2 linked regions of the Homo sapiens genome follow. The protein of the gene in region 1 interacts with the protein of each later gene in a pairwise test. Each region holds a gene or a part of one and is shown in the gene's direction. Other genes may lie near its edges.

Region 1 (3,541 bases):
TTTCATTTACCTTGAGTTAGGAAACTGGGCTTTATTACCTGGATAGAACACTAATTAGTTCTCAACCTCTTTCTTGAAAAGTGATGGACAAGGAAGGTATAGACCCTATATAATCTGATGATCTATATATGTTGGATAGCTCTCTATCCTATGATGATCTATATCTGTTTTATAGCTCCATATCCTCTGATACGCTATACCTATTGCTTATCTGTGTATCCTCTGATGAGCTATATCTGTTGCATATCCTCTTTCCTTTGATGATCTTTATCTGCTGTATATCTCTCTATCCTCTGATAACCTATATCTGTTGTATATCCCTCTATTCTCTGATGAGCTACACCTGTTGTATATCTATCTCTCTCTATCCTCTGATAACCTATATCTGTTGTATATCCCTCTATTCTCTGATGAGCTATACCTGTTGTATATCTCTCTATATCTGTCTATCCTCTGATAATCTATATCTATTGTATCTCTCTCTATATCTGTCTATCCTCTGATAACCTGTATCTGTTGTATATCTCTCTATATCTGTCTATCCTCTGATAACTTATATCTGTTATATCTCTCTATATATCTGTCTATCCTCTGATATTATAAATCTGTTGTATATCTATTGTCTGATGGGCTATTTTGTATCTATCTTCTGATAACCTGTATCTGTTGAATATCTCGGTATCCTCTGAGGAAGTATACCTGTTATATATTTCTCTCCCTCAGTAGATTAGAAAGCTGATGCAGAGAAATAAAAATAGTAGAAACAATTATTTAGAATTACATGAATGAAGAGCTTCTTTTTCTCCCCCTAATCACCATGTTAACATTTTCTTTTAGAAGAAGCATGTTTTGAGCTATAAATCACATCCAGTGGAAGATGGTGGAACTGATAATCCTGCTTTCAACCACATTGAATTGAACTCAGATCAGAGTGGCAAGAGCAATGGGACTCGTTTGTGAAGCTGCTCTGATACTAGATATCCTTAAATGATGTTTCAATTTTATATGTTTTCTAAGATAATTGGATCAGGTTTTCTTTGTGTGTGTGTGTGTGTTGTATCATGAGTGTTTGGGGGATAAGTTTTTGTTAAAACAAAGTCTGGACTATCTTCATTTACTACATCATTAATTGATGTTACTCTGGAGTTTAGAATTCTGGCATTGACATTTCCCTCTCTTTCCTTTATTTCGATGAAGCTATAATTGTGAAAATTGTAACTACATAGATGCTGAAAGGCTAATACACACATATGCACATGTATTTGATTGTCAAAGGTATATTCTTAAATTTGGGTATTATTGAAAATATTTTCCATGCCTTGGTGCTAGCATATAAGTTTGGAAGTTTGCCAACATCACAATTCATCTTGAAAAGAGCTTTTTTCCCTCCTACCACATACACCATTCTTAGGGAGCAATGAGGTAACAGGTCTGTGTTGTCTAGATCTTTGCTTTTTATCCCCCTATCAGTCCAGGGCATATACTAACCTGCAAACTGATTCTGAATCAGGAAGGTGGTAATCAATAAGTATTCTGGCTGGGAAAGACCGTGGGCCCAATGATCAAAGTCTTCTTGGTGCTGTTCATTAATTCTTGTGCCTTTTGGCTTGTTTTCTAGAGTTTCTGGGCTTTGGCTGCTGATACTGCCTTTCTTAGACTGTAATTTTTATCTGCATGCCCAGTTTCTGACCTATCAACTTGGGTTTTATTGTGCACTCTAACTGAGCTTGTCTTCATAATTTTCTGTTTATTGCCCTGGGCTTGGATATGTCTCAAGACACTCATGTGAATCATGCCACCCCAAATCCTGGCTTATCAAGTCCCAGACTATAAATTATGAACTCCCATTAGCTTGGTACTAACATATACTTGATGTAGGTATTTATGGACTTGATGATCCAAGAATATTATATTCTTCAAAATGGTTAAGCTCCATGGAGTTAGATGACTACACTTAATGCTATTAAGTTGAACTTTTGAATGTCAACTAATTTGCAATCAATTAAAGATACATATGCCTAGAAATTTTGAAATTTCGGTATATTTATCCAGTTAAAGGGCTAAATTATATAAGCAAACACTACTTTTTTTAAAACGTCTGGACTCAAAAAATGCTTTGTTCCATGTTTTAAAATTTTTAAGTAGCAGTCTCAAAGTTGCTTAGCTGTTTATTTTGCTATGTTCCTAGCTAAGAGTTTGGTTATAGGAGTTCATCAATAACTTATTTTTTGTACAGTTCCCACATTAGATACTGTTTAAAAGTTCTTTTTTAAACTCAATTTTTTTTAGAAACATAAGAGAAATATTTAGATACATACAAATGTTTTTATGATTAAATAATTTTATGCTTATTTTCTGATACGTGTTATTTAGGTAATCATGCCCTGTACATTTAGAGGTTGCTAACTGACAATGTTAAGAAATTTAAAAAAAAAAAAAAGCCTGGGCATGATGGCTCATGCTTGTAATCTGAACATTTGGGAGGCTGAGGCAGGAAGATCGCTTGAGGTCCAGAGTTTAAGTCCAGCCTGGAAACATAGTTAGACCTCATCTCTACAAAAATAAAAAATAAAAATAAAAAAAACTTAGCTAGGCATGTTGCCACATACTTGTAGTCCCAGTTATTAGGGAAGCTGAGGTGGGAGGATAGCTTAAGCCCAGGATTTCAAGGCTGCATTGAGCTATGATTACACCACTGCACTCCAGCCTGGGTAACAGAGTGAAATCTTGTCTCTGGGAAAAAAAAAAAAAAAAAAAAAAAAGAGAGAGAGAGAGGGAGATTTATATAACATTTAAATTAACTGCATAAACCTGGGCAATGTTCAAAACTCCATCTCTACAAAAAAACACAAGAATTAGCCAGGCACGGTGGTGTGTGTCTGTAGTCTCAGCTACTTAGGAGGCTGAGGTGGGAAGATTGCTAGAGCCAGGAGGTCGAGGCTGCACTGAGCTGTGATTGCGCTACTGTACTCCACCCTGGGTGATGAAGCCCTAACTCAATAAATAAATAAATAAATAAATAATACAAATAAATTAACTATATATTCATGTATTTCTTATGTGGATATATGTTATTTTTTTTTCCTGCTTTTCTTTTTTTTTATTTTTTTATTATACTTTAAGTTTTAGGGTACATGCGCACATTGTGCAGGTTAGTTACATATGTATACATGTGACATGCTGGTGCGCTGCACCCACTAACTCGTCATCTAGCATTAGGTATATCTCCCAATGCTATCCCTACCCCCTCCCCCAACCCTACCACAGTCCCCAGAGTGGATATTCCCCTTCCTGTGTCCATGTGATCTCATTGTTCAATTCCCACCTATGAGTGAGAATATGCGGTGTTTGGTTTTTTGTTCTTGCCATAGTTTACTGAGAATGATGATTTCCAATTTCATCCATGTCCCTACAAAGGACATGAACTCATCATTTTTTATGGCTGCATAGTATTCCATGGTGTATAAGTGCCACATTTTCTTAATCCAGTCTATCATTGTTGGACATTTGGGTTGGTTCCAAGTCTTTGCTATTGTGAATA
Region 2 (8,000 bases), on another chromosome or scaffold:
TGGCTGTTCATAATTCTGAATTGATTTTGTTATGGGAACAATGTTCTAAATGTTGATAGGTACTCCAACTAGGACACAGAGGCCTATTTAACTCATACTGTGATACATATACCTCATGCTGGTAGTACCAACCCACGCTTAAGAGCTGAGCAGCAGGAACTTACATGGAGCAGGAAGAGGGAACAGTTATTTGTTCAATATTTATTACGTTTCTACTAAGTGTTAAACATGGGGGACAGAACGTGAACACGATTGCCCTACTCTATAATAGAGTGTAATATGTGGCATGGACACTAGACATTGATCAAGCTGTGCTCCTCTGCTGCCCAAAATACTTCAGTGCCAATCAGCACTAGAATCAATTCAATCTCTTTCCTCCACAGGTCCTGCAGGCCCGTGTCCATTTGGTTCTCGCCTACTTTTTACCCTTGTTTGATTCTTCTTCGCTCGGCTTACTCTGCTCCAAGTTCTAGGCACACTCTGTCTAATTCAAATAGACCATGTGCTTGCTTCGAACCTCAGCACTTTCTCTTGTTCTGCCTGGATTGTTCTTCTCCCAGCTATTGCTGGCTCAGTCTCACCCTTCAAGCGACAACTCACACTTCCCCTCCCCAGACAGCCCTATTTCAAATGGGCCCCTTTGATTTTTCTCCAGCATGTAAGCTGCTTTTATGGTGTTGACAGCAGTGATTCTCAAACTTTAAGTGCACACAAATCACTTGGTGATCTTGCTAAAAGGCAGATTCTGATTCAGTAGGTCCAAGGTGCGGCCTGAGATTCTGCACTTTCAACATGCTTCCAGGTTATGCCCATGTTTCTGGTCCCCAGACCACACTTTGAGCAGCACTGTATTAGGGAACTTATCATATTCCATAATCATCTCATTTATTATTCATTTATTGATATCTGCTGTTCCTTATCGTGAAATGAAGGCTTAAGAGGGGAGGGACACTGCTTATTATTTTTGGTAGCCTTTGTAGCCCCAGTGCAAGAACAGCCTCTTCTTTGCATATAATAGCTACTAAATAATTATTAGATAAATTAAGACATTTCAAGTGTGATCATTGTTATACAAGGGTATGTGCTTGGGGCTGTGGAAACTAATCCCATCTGGAGAGTTGGGAAAGGAGAGCCAGACTTTTGCAGACCAGAATTTGCTCAAATTTGTAAGAAGTATTTTCGCAATTCTTGTTCTTCTGCCTAGTGTCCCTACTGTGATAACTCATCCTGACTTACCAAAGTCTTCAAAAGTCTCCAGAATAGAGAACTACCTTCTCTTCTCCCTACCTTTCAACCCATGGCCAAACGAATGTGTCAGGCTCCAGGATGGCTAACATTGGCTATGTTAACAGGCAAGCAGTCTGACCGAAATGTTTCACACTTGTTTTTGTGGATGACTGCTGTACCTTATTACGCTCTGGTGGTACTTTCATTTGGTAAAAGCAGATCCTTATCTAATTGTATAGTGCTATTTTAGCTAGTAGAATACAAATATGTACGCCTGGGGAAGAAAATTTAAAAAACAAATGTAAAAACCCTTGACTTTCTTTTTGTTTGTTTTTTCTAGTACTGAAGCCACAAATTATCCAGACCCTACGAGCAGCTGAGGATTGATAACCAGCAAACATGGAGGGGTGGAGTTCTTATCCATATCATTTGTAAGGGAGTGCCTCCTGAGCTGGAGCTTATGGAGGAGACGCATAATGCTTATGGTGATTAAGAGTGAGGGTTCTGAAATTCTCCTGTTGACATCCCTGACTGGAGGCATACCTTATGTAACCTTATAAGGTACCTACGCCTACTTAGATATCTTATGTAACCTCTATAAACCTCAGTCTCTCCATCTGTAAAACAGGGTGGACAACATATCTACCTCTCTATGTGCAGTGAGGATTAATGAGACAATGAAGGTCAAGTGCTGAGCACAGTGCCTGATACCTAGTAACAGTTCCCAAAAAAGTGGTAGATATTATTATCAACTTCTGATTAAACATGCTGATGGAAAGAACACTAAAAACAGAGTTTAAAATCAGAATGGGATCGTGGTGAATATAGAAATAGTATTTTTATTAGGCTTGGGGCCACATTTTGGTTAGAAAGTGCAGAATCAGATGATAAAAGGAAGGGGTAAGAGCAAGAGGTAGTGGAAGTCGCAAAAATAATTTGCAAAGTGACCAATCCAGCTGTCCACAAGGAATTCATCCATATATAAACACTCAGATGTTTCTGGGACGGTTGAGTAAGTATCTAATCCATGTCAGAAAAATCAGCTACTTTTCTCAGGAGGCCTGCCACACCAAACATTCATCTTCCTACAGTTTTTATTCATGTTTATTGGTATGGTGCCTTGAGTTTTCGATTTATAATAACATCCCTCTCTCACTGTGCAGCATTCACCAGGTGGTTCCACAGCCAGCAGAAAATGTGGGCTGACAGCATTGCCTGACTTCAGTAATGAGCAGAAAGCTTCCTTAAAACTGTGGTTCTCAACCTGGTTGTCACAACAAGGGGTTGTTACTATGTCTATTGGATAGTGGCCAGAGATGCTCCTAAATATCCTGCAATGCAGACGATAACCAACCCCCCACCCCCACACACACCACAACAAATAATTATTTGAATGAAAATGTCAGTAGTACCAAGGTTGAGTAACTCTGCCCTCAACTCCTTTTTCCTAATATTTTTGGCTCTCGTTTCTCCTGTTAAGTTTGGTGACTGAAATAATAGTCTTGCCAGCTCTGACATTGTAGGATTTTTTTTCTAACCTCCAAGAATTTTGATACTAAAATTAACCATTGAGGAGTGGCACAGACTTTCCTTTTGCCTAAAGAGGCCAATCCACAGTAGGCTATGGCTTCTCTGTGGCCTCAGCTGTAGCATTTCAGCAACAACCTCTCAATCTGCCATCTGGGAGACCACCCGAGGGGTGGTAGAACATCTCCAAAAAAGTGTACACCCCAAGTAAGCACTAATTTACATTTATGGTGTAGGACAGAACTTCTCTGTTTCTCAAAACCAGTTTGGTTTGAAGATTATCACCCTGTTGACACTAGCTCATTCTGTGAAACTGACAAGCCCACACACCTTTGGTGAAAGAATTTGTTTCCTACCCATTATCTGAGAGCCCATGAGCAGTTTAATGAATATACTGATGGAGGATTCCCTGGCACAAGCTTATCTGAACAAAGGCCAATAATATTCCACCCCATGCAGAATCCTATCAAAGCAATGCATTAATTGATTAAAGCAATTAAAAGAAAGTCTCCACCTCAAATAGGCAACAAATGCCACCAAAACTGATTAAAGAACACTGTCCAGTGACCTCAACCATGCACTGAAAAATCTAGTGAGTGACAACTTTTTAAAGGTCAGTGTGAAACAAGTAATCCTTATGAACATCAAGGCAATTCTTTCACTCTGATGAAGCAGTTAAATAGTGAAGGTCATGGGGCTTTAGCAGCCACATAAAAGAAAGAAGGAAAGCAATTAGACAAAATGGATGCTGTAATCCCACTTTCCAGGCCCCAGAGTCTCGCTGAATACAGAGCTCCTGCTTTACTGTTCAGAACTCTCCCGCTTCACTGTTCAGAAACTGGAAGCAGATTCCAAATGAGAATTCCATAGCTTGATTCCACTCTCACCAAAAGCTGACTGCGTGTTTCTTAGGAATGTCTATAGCCTTGGGAGGTAAAAATAAAATAAAATAAAATCAATGGATGATGCTATGAACTTTACACCCAGTTTGGAATTCCAAAAATATTCCTCCATTGCTCAGGACTGTTGCTGAATCCTACCCAGCCAGGTTTGCTGTACTGCAGGGAATGAATGTCCAGATCTATGGATCGCCAGGGTTTTCCAATCAAGTGGGAATCCAAGGACCAGCATGGACTAGCAGCATTGGCATCACTTGGAAGTGCTTTCAGTATGGAGATTCTCAGAACCCGCCCCAGACCCACTGTATCAGAACCGCAACCACATTAAAATGTGAGAAACACTGACCTACAGGACCCTACAGGGCACTTTTGTTTTGTTTTGTTTTCTGTTTTGTTTTTATCCTTCTTCTAGCCTGAGTTTCCTCAATGGAAAGATGACAGAGTGTACACACAAAACAAACCAAAACTGAAGGAGGGCAGTTGTTGACATGATCATGGGGGTGATGAGTCTTCTCCCAGTTCTAACTTCTGCAGTCAGCATCGCTTCTTTTGTAATCACGGGAAAATAATTTTCAAATGGAGCTAACCCTCTCACAACATTGTACTAATGATCTTTAAAGCGACGGATTTAGAAGCGCTCAGCACCACGCTTGCCACACTGCAGGGCAGACACTTCAGAGGTGTTAGGTGAAGTGGATGGAGCCAGCACGCTGGCCTCTCCCACTCCGACAGCTGGCGAGCAGCTCTTGTCCACCAAAACTTCCCCGGGTAGATTCACCCACCGGTCCTGGAAACCTGCTAAATCCTGAAGGTTCACAGAACCTCTGGTCAGAACTGAAGTTGCAGCCGGAGCTTCCCGCAGGCTCTGTAACTTTCCCTGGAATGAAATAAATAAATAAAGACCGTAAGTGCTGAGATAGCGGGCCCCAAGATATTTTTAGTCCTCTGCAATCAGCCACTAGAGGAAGGGGGAGGGAGAAGGGAGTAAAAAAGTTTTGATCCGTTCGGGAAGGGGCTCGAAGAGAACCCTTGGGAGAAAGCAGTAGCCTCAGCTCCAAACTCAGCGAGCTTTTCTCGGCTGGCGTTTTGTCTCCTATAGCGTAGACTGTAAGAGAACAGAAAGGAGTTTCCCGAGAAGATTCAGGCTGGCGTCCTGGGCTGGCCCGTCCCTTCTGGCGAGCCTCAGTGTCCTCCCACGCGCTTCTGCCTTCCAGCCTCCTCCCTTTTTCGGGGGGCTGGCGGGAGGCATCCAAGGCACGATGTATGTGCGCTCGCGCTCGCGCAAATACGGCCGGAGGAGTCCTGTTCCTCGGGCATTTTCCGAGGAAGTCTGGATCAATTAGGCTCAGTCCGGGGAGAGCCAGCGAGCGCGCGGGCGGCGTAGCCGGCCTGTCTGGGCCGCCTCGTGGGGAGGGAGGGGGCGCCCGGCCGCCCGGCGGCGACCCCGGGGCCTGGCCGCCACCATGGGCTTCGAGCTGGACCGCTTCGACGGCGACGTGGACCCGGACCTGAAGTGCGCGCTGTGCCACAAGGTCCTGGAGGACCCGCTGACCACGCCGTGCGGCCACGTCTTCTGCGCCGGCTGCGTGCTGCCCTGGGTGGTGCAGGAGGGCAGCTGCCCGGCGCGCTGCCGCGGTCGCCTGTCGGCCAAAGAGCTCAACCACGTCCTGCCGCTCAAGCGCCTTATCCTCAAGCTGGACATCAAGTGCGCGTACGCGACGCGCGGCTGCGGCCGGGTGGTCAAGCTGCAGCAGCTGCCGGAGCACCTCGAGCGCTGCGACTTCGCGCCCGCGCGCTGTCGCCACGCGGGTTGCGGCCAGGTGCTGCTGCGGCGCGACGTGGAGGCGCACATGCGCGACGCCTGCGACGCGCGGCCAGTGGGCCGCTGCCAGGAGGGCTGCGGGCTACCCTTGACGCACGGCGAGCAGCGCGCGGGCGGCCACTGCTGCGCGCGAGCGCTGCGGGCGCACAACGGCGCGCTCCAGGCCCGCCTGGGCGCGCTGCACAAGGCGCTCAAGAAGGAGGCGCTGCGCGCTGGGAAGCGCGAGAAGTCGCTGGTGGCCCAGCTGGCCGCGGCGCAGCTTGAGCTGCAGATGACCGCGCTGCGCTACCAGAAGAAATTCACCGAATACAGCGCGCGCCTCGACTCGCTCAGCCGCTGCGTGGCCGCGCCGCCCGGCGGCAAGGTAGGCGCCTGCTGCCCGCCCCGACCTCCAGCCAGGATCCCTGGGGACCCAGGGCCCCGCCCCATCCCTTTGGGTACAGGGATGCCCCGAGCTTCCCGGGAACATCCTTGCTTCCTCCCTCTTCTTCCACTGCTTACCAGCTGTATCACTACTTGCAGGTCGCTGAACCTGCCTGAGGTGGAACACTGTGGTCCTTTATAGTCTAGACGTAACCGGTAAAGTATAGCTGTACAGCTTCAGGGATTCTGGAAGGACGAAAAAGAATTCACAAGCAAGTGTAGGATAAGAATGAAGAATGCAGCTCCAGAGTCAAAACTGCGTTCAAAGGCTTTGCTGCTCAGACCAGCTAGGGGATCTCGGGCAAGTTGCTTACCCTCTAGAGGTCAGAAACCTATAGACTGACACTTAGGAGAGGAGAGATGGACACATTGGGTGAATTGTATCCGTGCATCCTCTAGGATTCCAGAAAAAAAAATAAAGGGAACCCACAGCCAGTGTAGATTAAGTTAAGAAGGATATCAGAAGAGAGGCCTCTGGGGTAAAAGCTGGATGCAAGCGTGGGCTTTGCAGCCAACTAGCTGGCTGACCTTGAGCAAGCTGCTTAACCTCTCTAAAGTTGGAAACTATGGTCCCTAGAGACGTGGTATACAGAGTAAAAACACAGCCAGGCACCCCTGAGGTATTCATCCAGGGATTTCAGAAAGAATTAAAGGAGCACTCTGCCCCCAACAAGTATAAAGTAATAATTAAGTGTGAGTCCTCTGGAGTTAAAACTGTTTTCAAATCTGGGCTTTTTGCTGACCAGCTGGGTGAGCTTCTGGCTTAATTCCCAGATCCCTCAGTTTCCCTCAGTGCGAAAGGTTTTTGTCAGGCTTCAGGGAGAGAGTTTAGTAGAAGGGCCTCGTACTGTGCCTGGCAGAGAGTAAATAAATGCTCAACAAGTGTTACCTAGAATTATTTTTAACATCTCCACCTGAGCGGTCCCCTTGAGCGAGGGTTTACTTTGCTCCAGGCTGGGTGCTGCATTCTTCCCAGTCATTTCCTTTTTAATCAAGTGAGGTTGGTGTGACCCTTCCCACTTAGTAGATGAAAAAACTGAGGCTCATTAAGGGGCAGTTTCATGCCTGGGTCACAGCTTTTGGGTGCAAAGCTGCATGTTGAACCTTTGCGTGCCCATCTTTCCAGCCCACGTTCTATAAACTATCATGTTGCTCCTCAGTGCAACCACAAGGACCATTTATTGAGTGTTTATTAAGTGCCACCAACAATAGGAAGTACTTTACATGCATTACCTATGTTGTCCTTTGAGATGAGGGAACAGACTCAGAGAAGTTATATAACTTGTCCAAAATTAAGTAGTGACTCAGGGAGCAGAGCCGGACTCAGATTCTACCTCAGAGTTCTCAGTTTTGGGGCATATTGGCATTTTGGGCCCCATAACTCTTAGTTGGGAGGGGAGGTACTGTGCTGTGCATTGTAGGATGTTTAGCAGCATTCTTGGCCTCCCTCCCAAGTCGTGACAATCCAAATATTGTCAAGTGTCCTCTGGAGGGGCAAAGTCGCCCAGGTTGAGAACCACTGGTTTCCCTGATTGCAGAAGCCACATTTTCAACAGCTGGGTACTTCTGCCTTCCTGGGGAGGGGCCTGGGCCTGCTGCCACCGCTCTGGTTGCCTGCTCCAGATGGTGTGGCAGAAAGGGGAAAATATTTGCCCGAGGCTCCCCCAAGGGCCTGTGTCTGCTTTGCCTCTCTCTGCCCTCTCCCAGCCCCCTTTCCTTACGTGCACACCAGGCCTGCAAGTTTTCCGACCTGGCCCCCCTTCCTGGCCCCTGGCCTGTCTGTCAGCTGCAGTCTCAGCAGCTGGCCAGCTCTGGGCGAAGGGCAAATATTTACAGCTCCACAGCTTGCCCAGGACCTCACAGGCACACAAAAGACTGGTGTGAGCCTTCGAATCACCAAAACAGAGGGCAAAGCTTGGTCTTCAATCAGGCGCCAGATTTAGGGTGAAGGAGTTCCCGAGTTTCTGCTGTTTATGCTGTCATCTGGACTTCCTTCGTCGTTTTAAGTGACGCTTATTTATAAATAAGCCATTCACTGCCCCAGAGTTTATGCATCATTTATTGTTGAGCTAGTTTATTATTTCTTCTTAACTTTCTGTTTT

The links.
Region 2: the proteins of SLC5A8 (region 1) and PDZRN3 interact in a two-hybrid assay, tested with the Homo sapiens proteins (one study listed by BioGRID).

Annotation. Positions count from the first base shown.
Region 1 is NC_000012.12:101,154,698-101,158,238, reverse strand, and holds the end of SLC5A8 (sodium-coupled monocarboxylate transporter 1), read left to right. Parts: intron 1-837; coding exon 838-960; 3' UTR 961-2,746; downstream 2,747-3,541. UniProt on the Homo sapiens protein: Acts as an electrogenic sodium (Na(+)) and chloride (Cl-)-dependent sodium-coupled solute transporter, including transport of monocarboxylates (short-chain fatty acids including L-lactate, D-lactate, pyruvate, acetate, propionate, valerate and butyrate), mocarboxylate drugs (nicotinate, benzoate, salicylate and 5-aminosalicylate) and ketone bodies (beta-D-hydroxybutyrate, acetoacetate and alpha-ketoisocaproate), with a Na(+):substrate stoichiometry of between 4:1 and 2:1.
Region 2 is NC_000003.12:73,621,942-73,629,941, reverse strand, and holds the start of PDZRN3 (E3 ubiquitin-protein ligase PDZRN3), read left to right. Parts: upstream 1-5,000; 5' UTR 5,001-5,116; coding exon 5,117-5,839; intron 5,840-5,976; exon of another isoform or gene 5,977-6,374; intron 6,375-8,000. UniProt on the Homo sapiens protein: E3 ubiquitin-protein ligase. Plays an important role in regulating the surface level of MUSK on myotubes. Mediates the ubiquitination of MUSK, promoting its endocytosis and lysosomal degradation. Might contribute to terminal myogenic differentiation.